Linked DNA regions of Homo sapiens. Changing the gene in region 1 together with any one later gene gives a genetic interaction. Each region holds a gene or a part of one and is shown in the gene's direction. Other genes may lie near its edges.

Region 1 (3,500 bases):
TATAAAGGGAGGAATGGTAATAAATGGCCACATTTATTCATTCAACCCATACTGAGCACTAACCCTGTGCCTGGCCTTGTTCTAGGCATGAGGATATGGTGGTGAACAGTGCCCTTGTGGAGCTAACATTTTAGTTGGGGAAATGGACAATAAGCAGATCTGTAACATAGTGTTAAGTCCTACAAGAATGGAAAGCAGGATGAGAGACAGTGGCAGGGGTGAGTTCTTTTACATTATGAAAGCAATACTGTACTGGAGCATAAACTGCAGTAGAAATAGAAAAGGAGTTTTCGGCATTGTATTGTAAAATTACAGGGGTTGTGCTGGGCTGGGGGAGGAGAATATGATCCCTTGACACCAGTAAGACAGGCCTCTCGGGTCTCTAAAAGGAGCTCAGAGAGTTTCTAGTTGGAAGCGAGCACTACAGGTTGAGTATCCCTTATCCGAGAGCCTTGGGACCAGAAGTGTTTCAGATTTTGGGGTTTTCCCAGATTTTGGAATATTTACACATATATAAGATAACTTGGGACTGGGACCCAAGTCCAAACACAGAATTCATTTGTTGAATATATGCCTTACATACATAGCCTGAAGGTAATTTTATACCACATTTTAAGCAGTTTTGTGCATGTAACAGTTTTGGCTGCTTTTTGACTCTAGCCCATCATCACATGAGGCCAGGTGTGGAATTTCCCACTTGTGGTGTCATGTCGACACTGACAAATTTGGGATTTTTGAGCATTTCAGATTTTTTATTTTTGGGTTAGGAATGCTCAAATCTGTAGTAATAATCACAAGAATGAATATAGTTTCTTCTAAGTTAAGTGCTAAAATTTGGTGCAAATGAAAGGTGTAAAACCATGTGTAAACTACCTAAAAAGATTGAATGGATAAGCTTTTGCATAAAATACTTGAAGTAGAAGGATAGATTTGAGCACTGCAGTGTGTGCATGTATATGGGTAACTAGTTGACAGTAACAAGGGCTGCAGTCAAGGTGATCACAAAGTGCCATGAGTGCTTGGCCATTTTTACTGAGGGAATGAGGTGACTGCTCCTGACCCCAAGTGTCCTGCCATCCTTTTAGAGTTAAGCCAGATGGTCAGACTGCTGTGGGCTTCCACAGGATGTATCGGCCCTTGGCGTGTGAGGTCAGTGGCCTGTGTAGATGAAGTCTGTGACAGCCCGTCCTGGGGGTTTGTTCTCGGCCTTATTCATGTTCTTCTACTGTGACATCCTTATGAGAACCGTTGGGAGAAATTTTTGATTTTGGTGTCAGAATTTCACCCGAATAATTTGTTTGCTTTCATCTTTTGAACCCTGAATTACATAACTGTTTTCATCCTAGTGATGGTTGCTAAAAAATTTAGTTAGAGACAGATGTATGGGCTGACTCTTGACTAATTTAGACATCTTCCAGGAAAACATTTCTGTCTTGTCATCTGTGGCTCTGCTTTAGGTCTCTCTCCATGTTTAATTTTTTTTTTTTTTTTTTTTTTTTTACTTATTATTGTTAAAAAAATTTTTTAATTTCTTTCTTTCTCTTTCTTTCCTTTCTCTCCTTTCTCTCCCCTTTCTTTCTTTCCTCTTCTCTTTTCTTTTCTTTCTTGAGATGGGGTCTCACTATGTTGCCCAGGCTGGCCTCAAACTCCTAGGCTCAATCGATCCTCTAGCCTCAACCTCCCAGAGCACTGGGATTACAGTTATTTGTTATTCTTTTTATTTTCTAGTCTCTTGTGCTGAACTGCATTTATCTTTTAAATAGCCTTTAAATATTCTTTGGCAGAAAGTGAGAAACAAATACATATATTACACCTATAAAATCAGTAAAACCAAATAAAAATTATCAAGCCCAATGTTGTAAGGGCCATAGGGAAGTAAGTGCATACACGTGGTTAATGACAGTGTGCACTGAGTTTCTGAGGAGTGTGGCTAGCAATAGATACTTAGTGCTATAACATTGTTTATTCATATTAAGCGGTTAATGCCACTTTTGGAAATGTATGACAGAGAACCGAAAAGAAGATAGTCCTTACAAAATTATTTATACCTACAGTGCACAACAGTGAAAGAGGGGGAGCAACTCAAATGCACAGTGGTAGAGGAGAGTCGAAGAAGTCAGTTAATATAATGCAGTGTTATAAAGCCACCAGAAATGATTCAGTGGATTAGATAAATAGAAATGTACATAAAATATGTAAATTATCAAAACATGCATTAAATCTATTTAAGAATACGTAGATTTAGCAAAAAGAATGAGATGGTCATGGTGAGACCGCTAGGTGGGAAGGGGTCCCCGGAAAAACTCCAGCCAGCCTGCCCACCGGGGTGGAGTTTTGGGAAGTTTGCACCATTTGTAGCAGGGAGGAGCCTGGCCCCTCTTCTTTCTGTGTGGAGCCCAGGATTCTAGCTGCTGGCAGGAAGCACTCTAGCAGGGACTCTGGCCTTGTGAGTGTCTCGGATTCCCCCTTTTCTTCCTTTTCACCTAATAAAACCCTGTCTTACCCACCATTCAAACCGCCTGCGAGCCTAAATTTTTGTGGCTGTGAGACGGACAAGGATCCCGTCTTTAGCTGAACTAAGGAAAAGTCCGGCAACAATGGATATTGGAAATAATATTAATGGATAGGTTTTACTCTCCTGCAGGATTAATATAACCTGTGAGTACTTTTAGGCTTACTACCAGTACAAGGAATGGCTTTTGGAAAGTTCTTAGAATGTAGAGCTGTGCTTCTGCACTTTGTTCAGCTACAAGCAGCCTCTTTGTCTCTCTGTTTCAGGATCTAAGCATTGAAGAACAGTCAGAGTGTGCTCAGGATTTCTACCACAATGTGGCCGAAAGGATGCAAACTCGTGGGAAAGGTAACACTGTTAGCCATTGAGAGATTGCGGGTATTGCACAGGGATGACTGCTCAGTCTCTTAGCAATTTCTTTCTTTCTCTGATGGTCTGGCTGGTTTGTAGACTTCATCCTGTAACCTCATGGACATTCTGGGAACTGGTCTTATACTTAGCAGTGCCTTTGAACTGTACCATGCGTATCTTTCCAGGAGCAATTGGATAATTTATTGAGTAACATTTAATAACTCCATTGGGGCAGGGCTGGAGCTGACGAAAACATCTTAGGGCCTGGCTCAGTAGCTCATGCCTGTAATCCCAGCACTTTGGGAGGCTAAAGCAGGCGGATCACGTTAGGCCAGGAGTTCGAGACCAGCCTGGCCAACATGGTGAAACCCCGCCTCTATTAAAAATACAAAAAGTAGCCGGGTGTTGTGGTGCACCTCTTATCCCAGCTACTCGGGAGGCCGAGGCACAAGAATTGCTTGAACCCGGAAGGCGGAGGTTGCAGTGAGCTGAGACTGTGCCACTGCACTCCAGCCTGGGCAACAGATCGAGACTCTGTCTTCAAAAAAGAGAGAGAGAAAGAGAAAAACTTATTGGAAGGCTTTGCTAAATGAATTTTCCATCTTGGAATCACCATTTTGGTGAGTTATTGTATTAA
Region 2 (3,500 bases), on another chromosome or scaffold:
TAAATCCTCCAAAAGTTAGACGAAACAAGATAGTACATTATGAGTCTTAATTTTATCATTGTGGAAAAATGTGTACTAACTCCTGATTTTGTTAATTTTATAACATAGGTTGAATTTTAGAGTGGGGTTTTTATAAGTAATGGAGGATAAAATGGGTGGGAGAAAATGGCACACAGCACCTGAAGAAAGATGGGGCAGTGACCTCTAGAACTCATGCATTGCCATTGGAAAGCCTGTGTTGGGCATCGATGTCAGATCCTGAAGAATCACCTGGAAAAAATCCCATCCTAGAGGCAAGGAGGCTACACCAAACCATACACTACAGTACTTTGTCACATGGTTGTCCATTATCATGTATTAGAGTCTAAATGATTACTTGAATAAAGAAAAAAAACCACTTAACTCTTACATATGAAATGTGTTTTGATTTTTAATTTTTGGATTAAGAAACTCAGATTGCCATAATAACCTTTTATTTCTTCCCGTGTATATTATTACAAATTATATATACTTTCAAACATAGTTTTTTTTTTTTTTAATTGAGACAGAGTCTCACTTTGTCACCCAGGCTGGAGTACAGTGGTGCAATCTCGGCTCACTGCAACCTCTGCCTCCTGGGTTCAAGTGATTCTCCTGCCCCAGTCCTCTGAGTAGCTGGGACTACAGGCGCACACCACCACACCCGGCTAATTTTTGTATTTTTAGTAGAGATGGGGTTTCACCATGTTGGCCAGGCTGGTCTTGAACTCCTGACCTCAAGTGATCCACCCGCCTCGGCCTCCCAAAGTGCTGGGATTACAGGCATGAGCCACTGCGCCCAGCCTTCAAACATAGTTTTAATGTCAGTACATCTTTAATGACTTGAAGTTTTAAAACATTTTAAGCCTTTAAGGTGAAAGCCATTTAATTAATTTGCTCTAGAAATAAGCACAAAAAATTATAGTTAATTTGAATACATGTATGTAATGCATGTCAAAATAACTTGTTAATAGCTATGTGCAACTGTGTTGCATACATTGATCACTAATGGCATTTAAAAATGATCTGCCTAAATCTGAGGATCTGTTTATTATAAATCAGTAGTACTAAAATATACCACCCTGTTTTTATGTTGTGGGTGTTTTTCTTGATTGATTGATCCTGATAAATTAAACAGTACCTTCAAGTATGGACTTTTAACTCCTCCAGTTAATGCATCATATGTTTACTGGCTAATATTAGATTGAACATTTTTCTCTCTATGTCAGTATCTCCATATGCACATTGGTTGCCGCATATATACATCTGAGTTTGAAAAGTTCTTCTGAGATTACCTAAAAGTAACACCACAGATTCCTTCCATTGTAAATACTTTATTTTATTTTATTATTATTTTTTAGAGACATGGTCTCACTTTTGCCCAAGCTGGAGTACAGTGATGCAATCATAGCTCACTGCAGCCTCAAATTCCTAGGCTCAAGGGATCTTCCTTAGGCTGGATGCTGTGGCTCACACCTGTAATCACAACACTTTAGGAGGCCAAGGCAGGAGGATCACTTGAGGTCAAGAGTTCAAGACCAACCTGGTCAATATAATAAGAACCTGTCTTTATGACTTCTTTTTTTTTTTTAATTATCCAGGCATGGTGGTACACACCAGTAGTCCCAGCTACTTGGGAAGCTTAGGCGGGAGGGTTACTTGAACCCAGGAGGTCAAGGCTTCAGTAAGCAGTGATTGTGGTACTACATTCCTGTCTGGGTGACAGAGTGAGACCCTGTCTCAACAACAAAAAAGGATCTTTCCACCTCAGCCTCTCTGGTAGCTAGGACTACAGGCACACAGCACTATGCCCAGCTAATAAAAAATAATAATTTTTTATAGAGGTGGGGTCCGCTATATTTTCCAGGCTAGTCCCAATCTCATAGCTTCAAGCAGTCGTCCAGCCTTGACCTCTCAAAATGCTGGGATTACAGGTGTAAGCCACCGTGCCCTGCCCATGATAAATATTTTAATTTTGCCTGATAAGTCATAAAAAGTTTATTCAACACCTTAAATAGATTTCTCAATTTTTTAAAAATATTAAACCTTTGAAATCGAAAGTAATTTTTGGATTTCACCCCTTTATTGCAAGGTTTTTGATGTCTGTGGGAAAAACCCCTGAATTGCTTGTGAAACTCTGGATATGTAATTTTTTTTCTTTTTCTGAACAGAGTAAAATCTTGGATGGGCCATGATCCAAAAATCATGGTTTTGAAAGTAGACCGTACTATAAGCCATAATCACAAATCTGAGGTAATAGTTGTGAAAGTGTTTAAAACATCCTGAAAACAATGTTGAAAAAAAAAATCTATGATAAAAACTATAAAATCTCTGCATATGTTATACTGTATTGAACTTGAAACTTTGAAGGAATTAGAGTAGATAAGACATTAATGGTAGAAGAGAAACCACAGGGGTGAATTATATCCTACAAAAGAGAAATCTTCATGATTTAACCTTTTTTTTCTGAGTGACTTTTATTTTGCCTTATTAACAGAAACCTGAGAAAGTATGTTGCTTTGTATTAAATGGTTGAGACCATTATTTGATATAAAAGCTGAAAATTTAATTTTTGTATTTTGGAGAATTCTGTGGTTCCAAGTAATTGAAAGAATGACTAAAGCTGTATGTCATAGACCCTGCTAAAATGAAATAACTTGTTGGGAACATTCCATGCAGATTTCCAAAATGTATTTTACCTTATTATTAGAGAAAGAAAATAAACTTTTAAAATAATCTGATAACTAGCATTCATATATTTAATAAGTATTTTGGTTACAGAAGGGAAGGTGATACTGTACATTGTAACTGCTGAGACTTTTTTTTAACCAATGTCTTTGGTAGATAGCGAGGCACAATTATTTTCTCTTAGGGAGGATTTTGAATACCTATTGCAGGCTGGGCATGGTGGCTCACGCCTGTAATCCCAACCCTTTGGGAGGCCGAGGTGGGTGGATCACTTGAGGTCAGGAGTTTGAGACCAGCCTGGCCAACATGGTGAAACGCCGTCTCTACTAAAAATACAAAAATTAGCCAGGCATAGGGTGGCACACGACTGTAATCCCAGCTACTAGGGAGGCTGAGGCAGGAGAATTGCTTGAGCCCGGGAGGCGGAGCTTGCAGTGAGTTGAGATTGCGCCACTACACTTCAGCCTGGGCGACAGAGCGAGACTCCGTTTCAAAAACAAACAAACAAAAACAAAACAAAAACACCTACTGCAGACCATGTTCTTTTTACTTTATTTTATTTTATTATTTTTTTGAGATGGAGTCTGGCTCTGTTGCCCAAGCTGCTCACTGCAACCTCCGCCTCCCGGGTTCAAGCGATTCTCCTGCCTCAGCCTTCCAAGTAGCTGGGACTACAGATGTGCACTACTACGCCCAGCTTATTTTTGTATTTTTGGTCGAGATGGGGTTTTGCCATGTTGGCCAGGCTGATCTCAAACTCCTGACCTTAGGTGATCTTCCCGCCTTGGCCTCCT
Region 3 (2,204 bases), about 82 Mb from region 1:
GTAGTCCCAGCTACTTGGGAGCTGAGGCAGGAAGATCGCTTGAGCCTGGAAGAGCCTGGGAGGTTGAGGCTGCAGTGAGCCATGTTTGTGCCACTGCACTCCGGCCTGGGCGACAAAGTGAGACCCTGTCTCAGAGGGGAAAAAAAGCAAAACAAAACAGGATTGCTTGGTTCTAGCCACATTTAGTTTTTCTCGTCTAGGGACAACAGGGAGAACAAGAGCTTTACCATAGAGTGGCCTGCTTAATCCACAACCTAGTTGATAAGGACCTAGAAACAACAACGTCATTAGTTATTCACCTTTTAAATTGTCGACAGTGTTACCGAAAAATCATAGGCCTAGCTTCAGTTTGGAACCAGCTCACCCAAATTTTTTTTTTTTTTTTTTTTTTTTTTGAGACAGAGTTTCGCTCTTGTTGCCCAGGCCGGAGTGCAATGGCGTGATTTTGGCTCACCGCAACCTCAGCCTCCCGGGTTCAAGCGATTCTCCTGCCTCAGTGTCCCGAGTAGCTGGGATTACAGGCATGCGCCACCGCGCCCAGGTGATCTGCCCGCCTCGGCCTCCCAAAGTGCTGGGATTACAGGCGTGAGCCACTGCAGCCGGCTTTTTTAAAAAACTCAGCAAAAAGACTTTGGTTCCTCACTTTCTCCAAGGATAATTACTTCAGGATGTGGAAATATTTCTGAGTTGGGGTCCTTAGTATACAGTTATTCTTTATTACTGCGCAGACCGAATGGGAAAGAGAACTTGGCTGTAGTGACCCTTTTTGTTGCGTTTTCTCCAGAAGGTCCAGTATTCACTCTGTGCGCTTTTGTGTGTTCTGTCAGGCTTGATCACCTTTATCCAAAAGAATTTTCTCCTGTGTCTTTCTTTTTAGATTATTTCTCAAGATGAAGCTGACAGAAGAGGGAAAGTGTATGATAAATACATGTGCAGCTTTCTGTTCAACTTGAACAATGGTATGTTTCAGAGCTGGGAGGCAGTGAGTTCCTGAGTTGCATGTGGCAGCCTTCTGCCGGCCGAGTGTTCAGAAACGAGGGTAGAGGTCAGTGAGGTGACCAGAAGGAGGATCTCCTTAGAGGCATGGGGGGCTGCTTGCTTGAAAGGAACTGGAGCAAGGAATTCCTCAGGGAGCAGATAGACTAGATGTGCAGGAAACCGCCTCTCTGGAGTCCCGGCTGTCTGTGGGTGGCACTATCCCAGCATCTGGCTGTGAAGGGGACGTTGTGCTCTTGCTGCTCACCTCACCTCTTGTGTTCAGGCAGCTCAGCACACCTCCTCCAGTCAGTGCCTCTGAGCGGGGAAGGAGGGGAGGAGCACTGCATTTGCAACCATCTTCCAGACTCCCCTGGATATTCTCAAAGGACTGAGAGGAAAGGCAGCTGCTTTCATAGCTGATGTTCTGGGGTAGAATGTAAGGCTGTGTAGGGATGTTTCTGGTGGGATTATGTGAAAATGGAGGTAGGCTTAACATGTAAGATATTCAGAGAAACTCTTAGTTGGAACAAGTAGAATAGGTTTTTTTCTATGAATGCTTTATAGACATTATAATGAAAAAAACTAATTTTAAATGTGAAAATGCCTATTCGTGATGTTTGGAAGAATTTTGTCAGATTTTTTTTTTTTTTTGCTATGTTTTGCTCAGTAATGTATGTTTATAGTTGATAATTAATAGCTTTTGAGTCAGATAACCATCTTGAATTATAGGTGATTAATTTTAACCTGGAACAATAGTGTGTTCTTCCAAATGTCATTTCTTACTGAATGAAGCTGCTTGATTTATTTGCTTTTGCAGGCAAACCCTGAAGAACTGTAACCAGTTGCATTTACAAAATCATAATAACTTGGTTTACTTATAACTGAAATTATTCACTGGGCTGTGCTTACTTTTTTCTTTTTAGATTTTGTGGTGGATGCAACCCGCAAGGGTAACAAAATTCGTTTTGCAAATCATTCGGTAAATCCAAACTGCTATGCAAAAGGTAGGTACCTTTGACGTGAGAATTGGAACTCCCTTTTCAGTCCTGTGATGATGGACTTGAATACTTCTGGGATAGTTGTTTGTTATGTGAACAAGTCAGTTAACCCCCCGTGGCCCGTCTTCATGCTCACTGACACCAGTGTGTCTCTTTGCAGTTATGATGGTTAACGGTGATCACAGGATAGGTATTTTTGCCAAGAGAGCCATCCAGACTGGCGAAGAG
Region 4 (2,497 bases), on another chromosome or scaffold:
CTTGGCACCTTATGGCCAAGGGACTCTGATGCATTTTCAACACTGATGCCAAGTTCAGTGAAGGCCTTGATGCTGTAAGGGTGACGGAAAGTAGGAAGTGAATTTGCTGTGTGATTGTGAACTGGTTACTTTCTGTCTCTGTGCTCTACCGGCCAAACAAGGGGTTTGGACCAGACCTGGGATTCCCAACAGGTGGACTTGTCGGTTGTCACCTGATAATCAGACCAGACTACCCACCTAGGTAGGGCACACTCTGTCCTGAAGCTGGAAAGCATGGCCTCTCTTCGGTTCCTATATCAGTCAGCTACTGTTGCGTAACAAATTATAGCAAACTGAGCACCTTAGGACTACAGACGTTTATCATCTCACAGTTTCTGTGAGTCAGGGGTCTGGGCACTGCTTCAGGAGCTCACAAGGCAGCAGTCACAGTGTCTCCTGGGCTGTGGTCTCATCTCAACGTTCAACCGGGGATGGGTCGGCCTCTAAGCTCATGTGGTTGTAAGCCAGGTTCAGTTCCTCATTGGTTGTCAGACCGAAGGTGTCTGTTTGTCAGTGTCTGTTGGCTGGGGCAGCCCTCAGAGCCTGGCCACGTGGACCTCCCCAGCATGATCAGTTCCTTCATCAGCAAATGGAGAAGATGGCCATGACTCTGTGTAAGACAGAGGGCACAGTCCCATGTCATGCAGAGGTGACAGGGTATCCCTTCCCCTCTGCCCCAGTGTCCTGCTGGTTAGAAGCAAGTTCAAGTCCTTCCCATACTCAAGTGGCCAGGACCTCACAGGGTATGGCTGTCAAGAGGCAGGGGCTTCTGGGGCCATCTTGGAGTCTGTCCACCCCAACTCCTGACAGCATCATCCTCTGCTGACCTGTTCCTTGAGCTCCCCCATATCAGCAGCCCAGAGTGTGGGTCCCCTGTCAGGCCACAGTGTGACCAGCCCTGGCCATGCTTGCTGGGTGACCCTGGGTGAGTGGCTTCCTCTCTCTGGGCCAGTGCCAGATGTGACATTGAATTTGTGTTGGTTACATACTTGGTGGAGATATGAGGACCCCCTGTTCTTCCTCCCAACGAAAGCATGGAAGCCCTAAGCTTATCCCCCAACCCCTGGCCCTGCTTTTCCTCGTGCCTAGTGTCCAGAAAGGAGGAGAAGGGCTGTTGTCTGGGATTAAATCATCTGAGCCTGTTAGTGTGGCAGAGTAGAGTTCCAGGGTGGCTCCCTGAGCTTCCAGCCCCTGCTCCGCACGCCCCATGCTCTTCCCTCCCCTCGAGTGTGGGTAGGGCTGGGACTGCCGTGCGTGTCACTCCTGCCATTATGTCAGAATCCCAGCAGAGGGGATGTTGCAGCTGTGATGACCGCCCCAGATCGGTTAGCGCTGAGTTCATCAAAAGGGAGGGGGTGGGCCTGGCCTAATCAGGTGAGCCACTCACCCTCCTGCTGGCCTTGGAGAAGCAAAAAGCCAGGGTGTGCCAGGAGAAGGGCATGAAGCGAGGACCCGAGGGCAGCCTCTCGGTGCCAAGAGCCATCCCCGCCAACAGCCAGCCAGGACACGGGGCCTCAGTCCACAGCCACCAGGAGGTGGACTCTTCCGACCTCCAGTGAGCTTGGAAGAGGACCCTGGGTGTCAGTGAGATCTCAGCCCTGATGACACCCTGCGAGACCTGGAGCGTAGGGCCCAGCTAGCCCGCACCTGGATTTCCACCGTTCAGAGCCGAGACACCGCATTCCTGCTGTTCCGCGTGGCTGAGTCTGCATTCGTTCGTTACGCGGTGTGTGAAGACTGACATCTGCACTGCGAGGATGGAGATCTTGGTCATCTCTGACATCTCCTGCATCGCAGAGGCCACTGCCAGCCCCCCTTTTCCCCCATGGTCATGGTGTCACCCCCGTCACCCTCTGACTGCAGGCCTGGGCGACTGCGGGGAGCTTGCTCTTCCCTCCCCCTCATCACAGTGGCCTTCTCATGGCACCCAAACCTTTCCCGCCGTTCTCCTGTCCTCGGGCTGGTCAGGCGGATGAGGTCCCTACTCCCGAGCCCCCAGCCTCACCCACTGCAGGGCCAGGCTCTCAGTCACCCCTGGAAAATGGTGCCTGGTTCACAGCTCCCGTGCATCTGCCTCATCTCTCCTGATCAACGTCTGTCTCTTGGGAGTAGCTAGAGTTCCTCATGAGCTTGTCCTCAAGCGAGGCATGCATGAGGCCTCCAGCCGGTGGTCAGTGAGGGAGTTAAGTGGCTTCTCCGTGGAAACACAGCCTTCTGCTGCAGCAGAGGCTCACCCAGCGTGAACTGCCCCCAGGGAACACTGGGCGATGCCTGGGGACATTGTGGTTGTCACGATGGGGGGTGCTCCTGGCCTGGAGTGGGTGGAGGCCAGAGACACTGCTCAGCAGCACCCTGCAGTGCCCAGGACGGCCCCGTCCCAGAGAACAATCCAGCCCCGAATGTCAGCACCTTCCCCCTACCCGAGTTGTGAAAATAAAAAATGTTTCCAGACATTGCC
Region 5 (3,500 bases), on another chromosome or scaffold:
ATGAATATATAACAACACTCAGAAATTTTTAATGTGTTTATTATAAAATATTTTAGCTCAATGGAACATGAAAGCTAGATTAAATAGCTTTTACTTATAAATTTAATTTATCACTTATAGTCTCGAGACATCTCATGCATTAGAAACTATACTAGCAATAATATAAAGCATTTAATTTTTCTTGCTTGGTAATATTTCTAATATTCAGATAAAATGATCAAACTTTTCAATATTATTAATTCCTTGTGGATTATTGTTTTTGTTCAGGATAACCTTTTTGAATGGCACTTCACGGTTAGAGGGCCCCCAGACTCCGATTTTGATGGAGGAGTTTATCACGGGCGGATAGTACTGCCACCAGAGTATCCCATGAAACCACCAAGCATTATTCTCCTAACGGTAAGAATTTTGGATTTTTAGAGTGCTTGTGGCTTCACTCTTCCTGGTAGCTGCAAAATATAGTAAGCAAATCATTTTCATTAAGAAATAATAGAACAGTATAATTTTGCTTTTGGGGTCCAGGCCCTGGGACTACAATTTTTTTCCTCCAAAATAATTCCTAGGAAGCTGATGCATCTGAGAAGTAAAAATGATACAACTGAATGCATAAATGTCATATCATGGTTGTTAGGATTCAATGAATTAATATATGCCAAGTGCTGGGCATACACATCTGGCACTTCATAAGTACTCACTAAAGGGTAGCTAATGTTATTGTACCTTGTAATCATATTGTCTCCTTTAACTTCCCACCTTTCTTACACTCTCTTCCTCAGTTTTCTCATCTTTACAATGAGAATAATGATACCTACCTCATTGAGTTTATGTGGGATGAAAAGTATCAAGATCTTATTGTATAGCTCTTAGAATAGAGCCTGACACAGAATACTCAATAAGTGTTAGCATTATTATTACTGTTTATATCTCAGATTTTCTCTCTTTCTCTCCAAATTTACACATCTTTTCTTCATGTGAAGGAAAACTTTTTTTTTTTTTTAAGAGACACGGTCTTTCTCTGTTGCCCAGGCTGGAGCGCAGTAGCACGATCATAGCTCACTGTAGCCTCAAACTCCTGGGCTCAAGCTATCCTCCCACCTCAGCCTCCTGAGTAGCTGGGACTATAGGCACATGCCACTGCACCCAGCTAATTAAAAAGTTTTTTGGTAGAGACATGGTCTCATTGGTCTTGAACTACTGGCCTCAGGCAGTCCTCCCATCTCAGCCTCCCAAAGTGCTAGGATGACAGGTGTCACCATCATACCTGGCCAAGGAAAACTATTGATCTAATTCCTCTTTAATTGTTAAGCTTTTCTTCTCTCATTTCCTTTAACTATGTTTAATTATCCCCTAACCTTGAAAAAAGCAAAAACAAACACAAAAACCATTCCCTGTATCTGTTATCACTTTAAGCTGTGCCTATTTTTCTCTTTGGTAACCTCCAAGGCATCCTTTCCGTAGTTTGGCCTGCTGCAGTCCACCTTCCACACATAGTGCCCTGTTGAAACATGAAACTACACCAATCTCAGAGACCAGTTTGAGAAATCTCACTGCTTCTCCTCAGCCTTCATCCTGTTCTCAGTTAAACATCTTACCCACACGGAGTAGCAAATGGTGAAACAACAGGTATTCATCAATAAATACCAAATTAGGCCGGGCGCGGTGGCTCACGCCTGTAATCCCAGCACTTTGGGAGGCCGAGGCGGGTGGATCATGAGGTCAGGAGATCGAGACCATCCTGGCTAACAAGGTGAAACCCCGTCTCTACTAAAAATACAAAAAATTAGCCGGGCGCGGTGGCGGGCGCCTGTAGTCCCAGCTACTCGGGAGGCTGAGGCAGGAGAATGGCGTGAACCCGGGAAGCGGAGCTTGCAGTGAGCCGAGATTGCGCCACTGCAGTCCGCAGTCCAGCCTGGGCGACAGAGCGAGACTCCATCTCAAAAAAAAAAAACATAAATAAATAAATAAATAAATAAATAAATACCAAATTAATGCTGCTTTTACCTCTATTTTGTATAACAGAGAGAACATTTGTTTAAGAGCCAATAGGCCTAGATTCTGACTGGTGCTCTTTCCATTACACTATGGGTGGGTTACACAATGTCTTTAAAATTGTTTTCTCATCAGTCAAAATGAATGTTGTGTTTGGTAATTGTAATCACACCATAAAGTACCTGACATATAGAAGCTGCTTAATAAGTATTAGCTGATATAGAGAACTGCTAATGCTGGCAGTAGAGTTGGAGCAGGGTCCTGGAGACACTCTACTGTGTCAGGAGTCATTTTATTTAGTTGCTAGATCATGGGGAGAGCTAAGTGGTCTTCGGGGAGGGAGGGGCTGGTGCATGGGGAGACTGGTGGTGGTGGAGGACAGTAGTTAGCAGCAGCTCTTTACCAACAAATACAGGTATATTTCAATAGTTAGCCAATGGTATGGTCATACTAACCACACTGGCTGAGAATCAGCCCTGATTTTCAACATTACACTCTTTCTGGTTCACTTCTTTTTTGAAAAGTCTTCTCCAACTTTCATTCAATAAGTATTTATTTATCCTTTCATTCATCACTCCTCTGAAAATCACACCTCTCTCAGAGCCTTTCTCCCCATGTCTTTCCTCACTAACATCTAGTTAGGTGATACTGAGTCCTTAGGTTTCGTCCTGGCCTCTTGAATGTCTTCTCTTTTAGATTCTTTTTTTTTTTTTAACTTGAGATAGGGTCTCACTCTGTCACCCAGGCTGGAGTCCAATAGCATGATCACAGCTCACTGCAGCCTTGATGTCCCACACTCAAATGATCCTCCCACGTCAGCCTCCTGAGTAGCTGAGACTATAGTCACACATACCACGCTTGGCTAAATTTTTTTTATTTTTATTTTTTGTAGAGACAGGGTTTCACTTTGTTGCCCAGGCTGGTCTCAAACTCCTGGCCTCAAGTGACCTTCCTACCTTAGCCTCCCAAGTGCTGGGATTACAGACATGAGTCACCATGCCTGGCCTCTTTTAGATTCTTAACTGAGCCTAGCTCCATACTAGGCACAGGGTAGGACATTAGTAAATCCTCTCCCCTCCCCTCCCCTCCCCCACTCCTTCCCTCCTCCCCTTCCCCCTCCCCTCTCCTTCCCCCCTCTCCTTCCCCCTTCCCCTCCCCACCCCTCTTCCCTCCCCATCCCTTCCCCCCTCCCCTCCCCACTTCCCTCCCTTCCCCCCTCCCCTCCCCTCTCTCCTCCCCCATCCCCTCTCCTCCCCCCTCCCCCCCTCTCCTCCCCTCCTCTCCTCTTTTTTTTTCTTTTCTTGGGGACAGGGTCTCACACTGTCACCCAGGCTGGCATGCAGCAATGCAGTCATAGTTCACTGTGGCCTTGAACTCCTGGGCTCAAGTAATCTTCCTGTCTTAGCCTCCCAAGTAGGTAGGACTAGAGGCACATGCCACCACTCCTGGCTAATTTTCTTTCTTTTCTTTTTTTGGTGACAGTGTCTCACTAAGTTGCTCAAGCTGGCCTT
Region 6 (3,500 bases), on another chromosome or scaffold:
AAGATCTTGCCACTGAACTCCCGCTGGGGTGACAGAGCGAGACCGCCATCTCAAAACCAAAAAAACAAAACAAATGGAATCAGCACAATAGCTGTAGAAAGATGCTATTAGAAAGGATGGGGGGAAATGGAAAATAAGTGGCAGATAAAGTACCCATACTAAAAAGATGTCTTTAGCTTGGTTGAAAAATAATTGTCAGTCCTACCACTGTGAGTTCAAAGAACTTAAGAAAATACAGAACTTCAAGCAGAGATATAGAGGATTGGGTAAAATAAGGCATGGCAAAGAGAAAATATAACATCAGCTGGCAGAGCACACAGGAAAGTAGTGGAAGAGAAAACTAAAATTATCACAGGATTAAAAGCCACATTGGAAACAGAATAAAGGCTGGGCACAGTGGTTCACTCCTGTAATCCCAGCTACTTGGGACACTGAGGCAGGAGACTTACTTGAACCTGGGAAGAGGAGGTTGCAGTGAGCCGAGATCATGTCACTGTACTCCAGCCTGGGTGATGAAGTGAGACTGTCAAAAAAAAAAAGAAAGAAAGAAACAGAATAAAGATGAACACACAGTGCTGAAAACAGTAAAGGTTAGGGAGGACAGATTGAAAAATGAAACTGAAGAAAACAATGAGAACATAATAGATGCAGAAAGTAAAAGAGATCTGACGTAAGTATAATTGGTGTCCCTCAAGAAGAGGACCAAAGAAATGAAACAAACTCAAATATATGGTTAAAGAAGAACTTAGAAGTAAAGATTTGAAGTGATAAGTTCAAATTGGCATGATTTGAACTTGCCAAAGATTTGAAGTGATAAGTTCAAATTGGCATGAAGTGATAAGAAAAATTGGCACTGAACAGTTGGCACTGAAACATTTCCTAGGAAAATTTCTTTTTTAAAAAATTTATCTTATTTTTCGTGTGTTTTGTTTTGTTTTGAGACAGTGTCTCACTCTGTTGCCCAGGCTGGGTGCAGAGGCATGATCCCAGCTCACTGCACTCTTGACCTCCTAGGCTTAATCGATTGTCCCACCTCTGCCTCCCGAGTAGCTGAGACTACAGGTGCACACCACCACGCCCGCTAATTTTTGTATTTCTTGTAGAGGCAGGGTTTTGCCATGTTGCCCAGGCTGGTCTCAAACTGTGGGCTCAAGTGATCCACTAACCTCAGTCTCCCAAAGTGCTGGGACTACAGGCCTGGCACAGAGCCTGGCATCCCTAGGAACATTTCTATGTTTTAAGGATGAAGAAAGAATTATTTGGACACCCAGACAAAATGATCAAGTCCTCTTTAAGAGGGGAAAAGAAATTAGGCTAGCTACATTTGATGACAGAAGGCCATGGAGCAATGTCTAGGAATGTACAAATACTGTAGATTGTGCTGCTATAAATACTTGGGGATATACTTAGGCATATGTAAGGTTTATGTGGAAATAATAATGCTGGGGAACACAAAACAATACTCGAAAAATGGGAAGGTATTCTCTTTTCTTGTATAGTAAAGCTTGGTATCCTAAAGATGTCAGTGTCCCTAAACTTAATGTAATCCCTGTTTAAAATACCACAGTTGTTTTTTCTGGAGACAGGGTCTCGCTCTGTCGCCCAGGCTAGAGTGCAGTAGTGTGAGTATAACTCACTGTAACCTCAAACTCCTGGGCTTAATCAGTAGGTGTCTCACTATGTTGCTCAGACTGGTCTTGAGCTCCTGACCTCAAACAGTCCTCCTGCCTGCCCAACCCAAAGTGCTGGGGTTACAGGCATAGGCCACCATACCTGGCCAAAAATACTCCAGATTTTTAATAATGGTTTTTTAGAACCAGGCAAACTGATTGTTTCTACAGATAAATTTTACAAACATGCACACATTGTCAAAAAACTTCTGAAAAGGTGGACTAATGATGGATATTAAAACATAATGCAAAGATATAATAAATAAGATCGTTTGATACTCTAAGAACTGATGTATAAACAGAGTCTAGAAATGAACTCAGAATACAAAAAGAAATGTAGTCTGTGCTAAAGGTGATAGGAAATGAAGAAAAAATATTTTTAAGGCCAGGCACAGTGGCTCACGCCTGTAATTCCAGCACTTTGGGAGGCGGGGGCAGGCAGATCACGAGGTCAGGAGTTCGAGACCAGCCTGGCCAACATAGTGAAAGCCCGTCTCTACTAAAAATACGAAAAATTAGCCAGGCATGGTGGTGGGCACCTGTAATCCTCGCTACTTGGGAGGCTGAGGCAGGAGAATCACTTGAACCCAGGAGGTGGAGGTTGCAGTGAGCCAAGATTGCATCATTGCACTCCAGCCCGGGTGACAGTGTGAGACCCATATATATATATATATGTATATATATATACATACATATATATACGTATATATATGTATGTATATATATATGTGTATATATATGTATATATATATGTATATATATGTATATATATACGTATATATATATGTGTGTGTATATATATATATATATATTTTTAATAATTGGTATTGAAACCAGAAAAAAAAATTGGATCTCTACCTTAAGCTTTGTACCAGCCGGGTGCAGTGGCTCACACCTGTAATCCCAGCACTTTGGGAGGCTGAGGCGGGTGGATCGCCTAAGGTCAGGAGTTTGAGACCAGTCTGGTCAGCATGGTGAAACCCTGTCTCTACTAAAAATGCAAAAAGTAGCCGGGCATGGTGGCAGGTGCCTGTAATCCCAGCTACTCGGGAAGCTGAGGCAGGAGAATCGCTTGAACCCAGGAGGCAGAGATTGCAGTGAGCCGAGATGGCACCATTGCACTCCAGCCTGGGCAACAGAGTGGGACTCCGTCTCAAAGAAAAAAAAACCTTGTACCAGAATTCCAGATAAATGGAAGAATGTAAACATATAACTGTAAAACACGGGAGAATCTTGGTGTGAGAAAGCCATGAAAGTAGAAGTAAACTATATAAAAATAAAATCTCTGTAACAAAACCAAAGTCAAAAGATAAGTGACAAACTGAAAAAATACATGTAATGTCCTAGACAAAGAACAAATCCCTTAATAACTGCATATAAAGATCTGCAAATCACCAGGAGACCAGTCACCCAGTAGAAAAAGAGAAATAGATAGGAAGAGTTTCCAGAAAGGATATGTAAATGATTCTTGAACGTATGAAGAACTGAACCTCATAAGAAAAAAAAAAAATGGAGTTTCAGCTAGATTAGGAAAAATAAAAAACCGTGGTAATCTACTGTGTGTGTGTGTATACACGTATGTGTAGCTTTCCCATGCAGTTGCTATCAAAATTTAAATTGGCATTATTTTCCACCTGGTAGTTCCGCTAGTGGTAATTCATCCTACAGCTATACTCATGTGGTTGAAATGACTAAAGTGCAAGGATATTCATTTTAGCATTATTTGTAAAAGAAAAATATGAAAATATTATTATTAGGGAAATTGTTGAATAAATTATGCTACCTCCATGCAGCTGTTAAAAGAATGAGCTAGCTTTTCATATACTGATA
Region 7 (3,500 bases), on another chromosome or scaffold:
AGTCTCACTCTGTCGCCCAGGCTGGAGTGCAGTGGCGCGATCTCTGCTCACTGCAACCTCCGCCTCCCAGGTTCAAGCAATTCTCCCGCCTCAGTCTCCTGAGTAGCTGGGATTACAGGCACCCACCATCATACCCAGCTAATTTTTGTATTTTTGTAGAGACGGGGTTTCACCATGTTGGCCAGGCTGGTCTTGAACTCCTAACCTGAGGTGATCCACCCGCCTTGCCTCCCAAAGTGCCGTAATTACAGGTGTGAGCCACCGCACCCGGCCTATTGTTTCTTTTTTTAAAAAAAAATTCTGATTATTTCCTACTGAGTGATTTTTACAATTCATTGAGTCATGACACAGTTTGAAAAATCCTACCCAGGCTTAACGCAGTGTCTCAGTCCTGTAGTCCTAGCAATTGGGAAGGCCAAAGTGGGAGGATCACTTGAGTCCTGGAGTTCAAGACCAGCGTGAGCAACATAGTGAGACTTTGTCTCTGAAAAAATTAAAAAAAAAAAACTGCCCTGGAAAAGCCTTGGCACGTGTATACACAAATATATATATATATTTTATATATATATGTAAAATACATATATTTTAATATATGTATTTTATATATATATAATACATATATATATAATGCTTATTGTAACATTGTTTGTAATAATGAAAAATTATAAATAACTTTGCCTTATAGAGAATTTAAGTTGTATTGCATTCATTCAGTAGACTGTAATTCACCAGTTTAAAAACAAACTAGATCTGCATGTATTATATGGATAAATTTGAAAAACATAGTGTTGACCAAAGTTAACAAGTTGTAAAACAGTAGCTACATCTGAATTTTTAAAGACATGAAAAAGAAATACTATTTATGGTTATAAACATGAGGATAAATGCAAAAACATGCATGAGAATGAAAACACCAAATTTAGGTAGTGGTTACCTTTAGGGTAAGAGGGAGGAGAGTGGGATCAGAGACACACAGGTGGTGATTCTGCTGTTGCTGATTTTATTTCTTAAAGGGAAAGAAACCTGAAATCTGGCAAATAATATGTCAAGGCTAGCTGGAAGTATGTGGACATTATATTATACATCTTTTTTCATGTATAAACATGTAATAATAAATAATATATAAAAAGTAATAAATATAATAATAAAGTTTTTTAACTTTAAAAATAAAACACGCTTTAAAAGCAACTGCTACCTCCCCTCCCCCCCACTAATAAAATTCTAGTATGATAAAAATGAATACCCTGCTTTCATTGGAAATTTCTAGCTTACACTTTCTCTCTCACTCCGTTTCTCCTTTTCTGTCTCTCTCTACTCCTTCTCCCTCCCTCCCTCCCTCTCTCTCTCTGTCTATATCAATTTTGCTTTAAGAGGAAACTGGGAATTAAACAAACTGGGATCAATGATGTAATGTATCTTTAGTACTTTGGATTTTCTAAACAATTTCCTGTAGTTTCTGAGAGTTGTATTTTAATCACATTCATAGAAACTCAGTCAGTCTGGCCAATGGAGGAGAATAGTATAGTCCTGCTCTTTCAAATTATGTTAAGCAAAATGGCTTTCTTCTCTGGGAATGCACTGTACTCAAAGATATAAGGTATTAGACTAGAGGCTCCCTTAAGTTACGGCTAGTTCTAACGTTCTAAAGCTCTAACACAGAATCTTTCTTCTGTTGGATTGTTAGTTCTTTGAAACTAGACAGTGTGTTCTAAATACTAACCCTCATAATACCCTGAATAATACAGTTAGTATGTTAAAAATTAATTAAAAGAATGGTCATCACAACTTTGAATTCCATGGTACACTTTCCACAAATGCTTCTGTTTGTACCATGTTGATTAGTAATGTGACCCTTTCTTTCCCATGTTTAGTGATTTAGAATCTAGAAGAGAAGTAAAAAAAGAAGAAGGTGAAGCTTTTGCACGAGAACATGGACTCATCTTCATGGAAACGTCTGCTAAGACTGCTTCCAATGTAGAAGAGGTAAATAAGAGGCCCTTTAAAATCTTCATCTTTATACTTAATAGAAATGTTTTATATATCTTCATTTTACTTATTATTTAAGTTTTTAGTCGGATGGTCTTTGAACATCATAAAGTAGGAAAGTTTCTTCCCTTTGAAATCCCTTGTAACATTCACCTTCTGTCAGACTCTTAAATCATATTGAGCCTTCTAAAGCCTGAATGTTTTCTTACATTTTTGTACGTATTTTCACTCCCTCCCTTTTTCTAAACAATTTCCTATAGTTTCTGAGAGTTATATTTTAATCACATTCATAGAAAGTCAGTCTGGCCAATGGAGGAGAATAGTGTAGTCCTATTCTTTCAAATTATGTTGAGCAAAATGGCTTCTCTGGGAACCCACTGTACTCAAAGATATAAGGTATTGGACTTCTTCGTGTTGCATGGTAGGGAAATCTTTTTTGTGTTGCATGGGAGGGAAACAAGGAACCACACTAATGAAATTTGGAAATGTTTCAAGACAGCAGAACGTTTGTAGCTATTTATATCCACTTCTGCTTATTTTTTTAATTTTATTTATTTTTTTAACTGTCAATATATTACCACATCACCACTTCTGCTTAAAGTATTCTATTATTGCTGTGTAACATTTTACAAAGCATGAGAATTCTGTTTCATCTATTGATGAAATTTGTATTATTTCAGTTATTTCCATTGATGAACCTGAACTATTGGAACTTTTCTGAACACAGTGTATTCTTTTATGCTCTATGTGTTTGTGTTTGGAGGTAGTATGTATATACATATTATAAATAGATGATTACGTAGTTGATCCTTTCTAAGGTAAATGTATTACTATACTGTTATTTTATAAAAAGAGGTAATGAAGCTAAGAAAAGTAGTAGTTTATCCAAAGTAATACTTAGTTCCCGATTTCTAGATAAGAACAGCTTATAAGAGCAACTACAGAAAGTAGTTCTAAAAAACAAATGAGTTAAGAATCACTGCCGTAAGGATAACAGAGGTCAGGGTCCTGGGCAACAGCTAGCATGTGCCTTCAATGTAGTAAGCAGTCAGTAAATATTTATTAAGAATGATACTTGGAGCTCTTCTGATTAACCCTTGAACCTAAAAATTGACTACAGTAATTCTACAGCATTGGTATTTTCACCGAAGAATTCTTTCTTAGGTAAAATATTATACAGTCATGTGTTGCTTGACAAAGGAGATACATTCTGAGAAATATGTCACCAGGTGATTTCATCGTCACGTGACCATCATAGAGTGTACTTACATAAGCCTAGATGGCATAGCCTACTACTGCACCTACTACACACTTCCCTTAGTAGACCTTGGTGCCAGAGGAATGACACAGTGATGATTTCCCTTGGTTTTCTTTTTGCCACATACCCGAGACTGGGTGCTAGAGAAACAGGCAACCTAGAAAGGTCAACAGGCACAGAAAAAGAAAGTCTTCTAGCCAGAGAACCAGGAAATAGGCAGGTCAGAACAGTGTTCGCAAGCCAGAACACTCTTAGA

The links.
Region 2: changes in RABGEF1 (region 1) and SLC33A1 together harm fitness more than expected from each alone (negative genetic interaction), as found in Homo sapiens cells (one large-scale study listed by BioGRID).
Region 3: changes in RABGEF1 (region 1) and EZH2 together harm fitness less than expected from each alone (positive genetic interaction), as found in Homo sapiens cells (one large-scale study listed by BioGRID).
Region 4: changes in RABGEF1 (region 1) and SLC39A3 together harm fitness less than expected from each alone (positive genetic interaction), as found in Homo sapiens cells (one large-scale study listed by BioGRID).
Region 5: changes in RABGEF1 (region 1) and UBE2J1 together harm fitness less than expected from each alone (positive genetic interaction), as found in Homo sapiens cells (one large-scale study listed by BioGRID).
Region 6: changes in RABGEF1 (region 1) and DCAF7 together harm fitness less than expected from each alone (positive genetic interaction), as found in Homo sapiens cells (one large-scale study listed by BioGRID).
Region 7: changes in RABGEF1 (region 1) and RAB2A together harm fitness less than expected from each alone (positive genetic interaction), as found in Homo sapiens cells (one large-scale study listed by BioGRID).

What each region holds. Positions count from the first base shown.
Region 1 is NC_000007.14:66,792,733-66,796,232, forward strand, and holds part of RABGEF1 (rab5 GDP/GTP exchange factor), read left to right. Parts: intron 1-2,778; coding exon 2,779-2,860; intron 2,861-3,500. UniProt on the Homo sapiens protein: Rab effector protein acting as linker between gamma-adaptin, RAB4A or RAB5A. Involved in endocytic membrane fusion and membrane trafficking of recycling endosomes. Stimulates nucleotide exchange on RAB5A. Can act as a ubiquitin ligase.
Region 2 is NC_000003.12:155,823,428-155,826,927, reverse strand, and holds part of SLC33A1 (acetyl-coenzyme A transporter 1), read left to right. Parts: 3' UTR 1-3,500. UniProt on the Homo sapiens protein: Acetyl-CoA transporter that mediates active acetyl-CoA import through the endoplasmic reticulum (ER) membrane into the ER lumen where specific ER-based acetyl-CoA:lysine acetyltransferases are responsible for the acetylation of ER-based protein substrates, such as BACE1.
Region 3 is NC_000007.14:148,809,088-148,811,291, reverse strand, and holds part of EZH2 (histone-lysine N-methyltransferase EZH2), read left to right. Parts: intron 1-877; coding exon 878-959; intron 960-1,901; coding exon 1,902-1,982; intron 1,983-2,136; coding exon 2,137-2,204. UniProt on the Homo sapiens protein: Polycomb group (PcG) protein. Catalytic subunit of the PRC2/EED-EZH2 complex, which methylates 'Lys-9' (H3K9me) and 'Lys-27' (H3K27me) of histone H3, leading to transcriptional repression of the affected target gene.
Region 4 is NC_000019.10:2,734,521-2,737,017, reverse strand, and holds part of SLC39A3 (zinc transporter ZIP3), read left to right. Parts: coding exon of another isoform or gene 1-78; exon of another isoform or gene 79-2,492; intron 2,493-2,497. UniProt on the Homo sapiens protein: Transporter for the divalent cation Zn(2+). Mediates the influx of Zn(2+) into cells from extracellular space. Controls Zn(2+) accumulation into dentate gyrus granule cells in the hippocampus.
Region 5 is NC_000006.12:89,339,223-89,342,722, reverse strand, and holds part of UBE2J1 (ubiquitin-conjugating enzyme E2 J1), read left to right. Parts: intron 1-267; coding exon 268-399; intron 400-3,500. UniProt on the Homo sapiens protein: Catalyzes the covalent attachment of ubiquitin to other proteins. Functions in the selective degradation of misfolded membrane proteins from the endoplasmic reticulum (ERAD) and is essential for cells to recover from ER stress.
Region 6 is NC_000017.11:63,556,977-63,560,476, forward strand, and holds part of DCAF7 (DDB1- and CUL4-associated factor 7), read left to right. Parts: intron 1-3,500. UniProt on the Homo sapiens protein: Involved in craniofacial development. Acts upstream of the EDN1 pathway and is required for formation of the upper jaw equivalent, the palatoquadrate. The activity required for EDN1 pathway function differs between the first and second arches.
Region 7 is NC_000008.11:60,589,987-60,593,486, forward strand, and holds part of RAB2A (ras-related protein Rab-2A), read left to right. Parts: intron 1-1,871; coding exon 1,872-1,983; intron 1,984-3,500.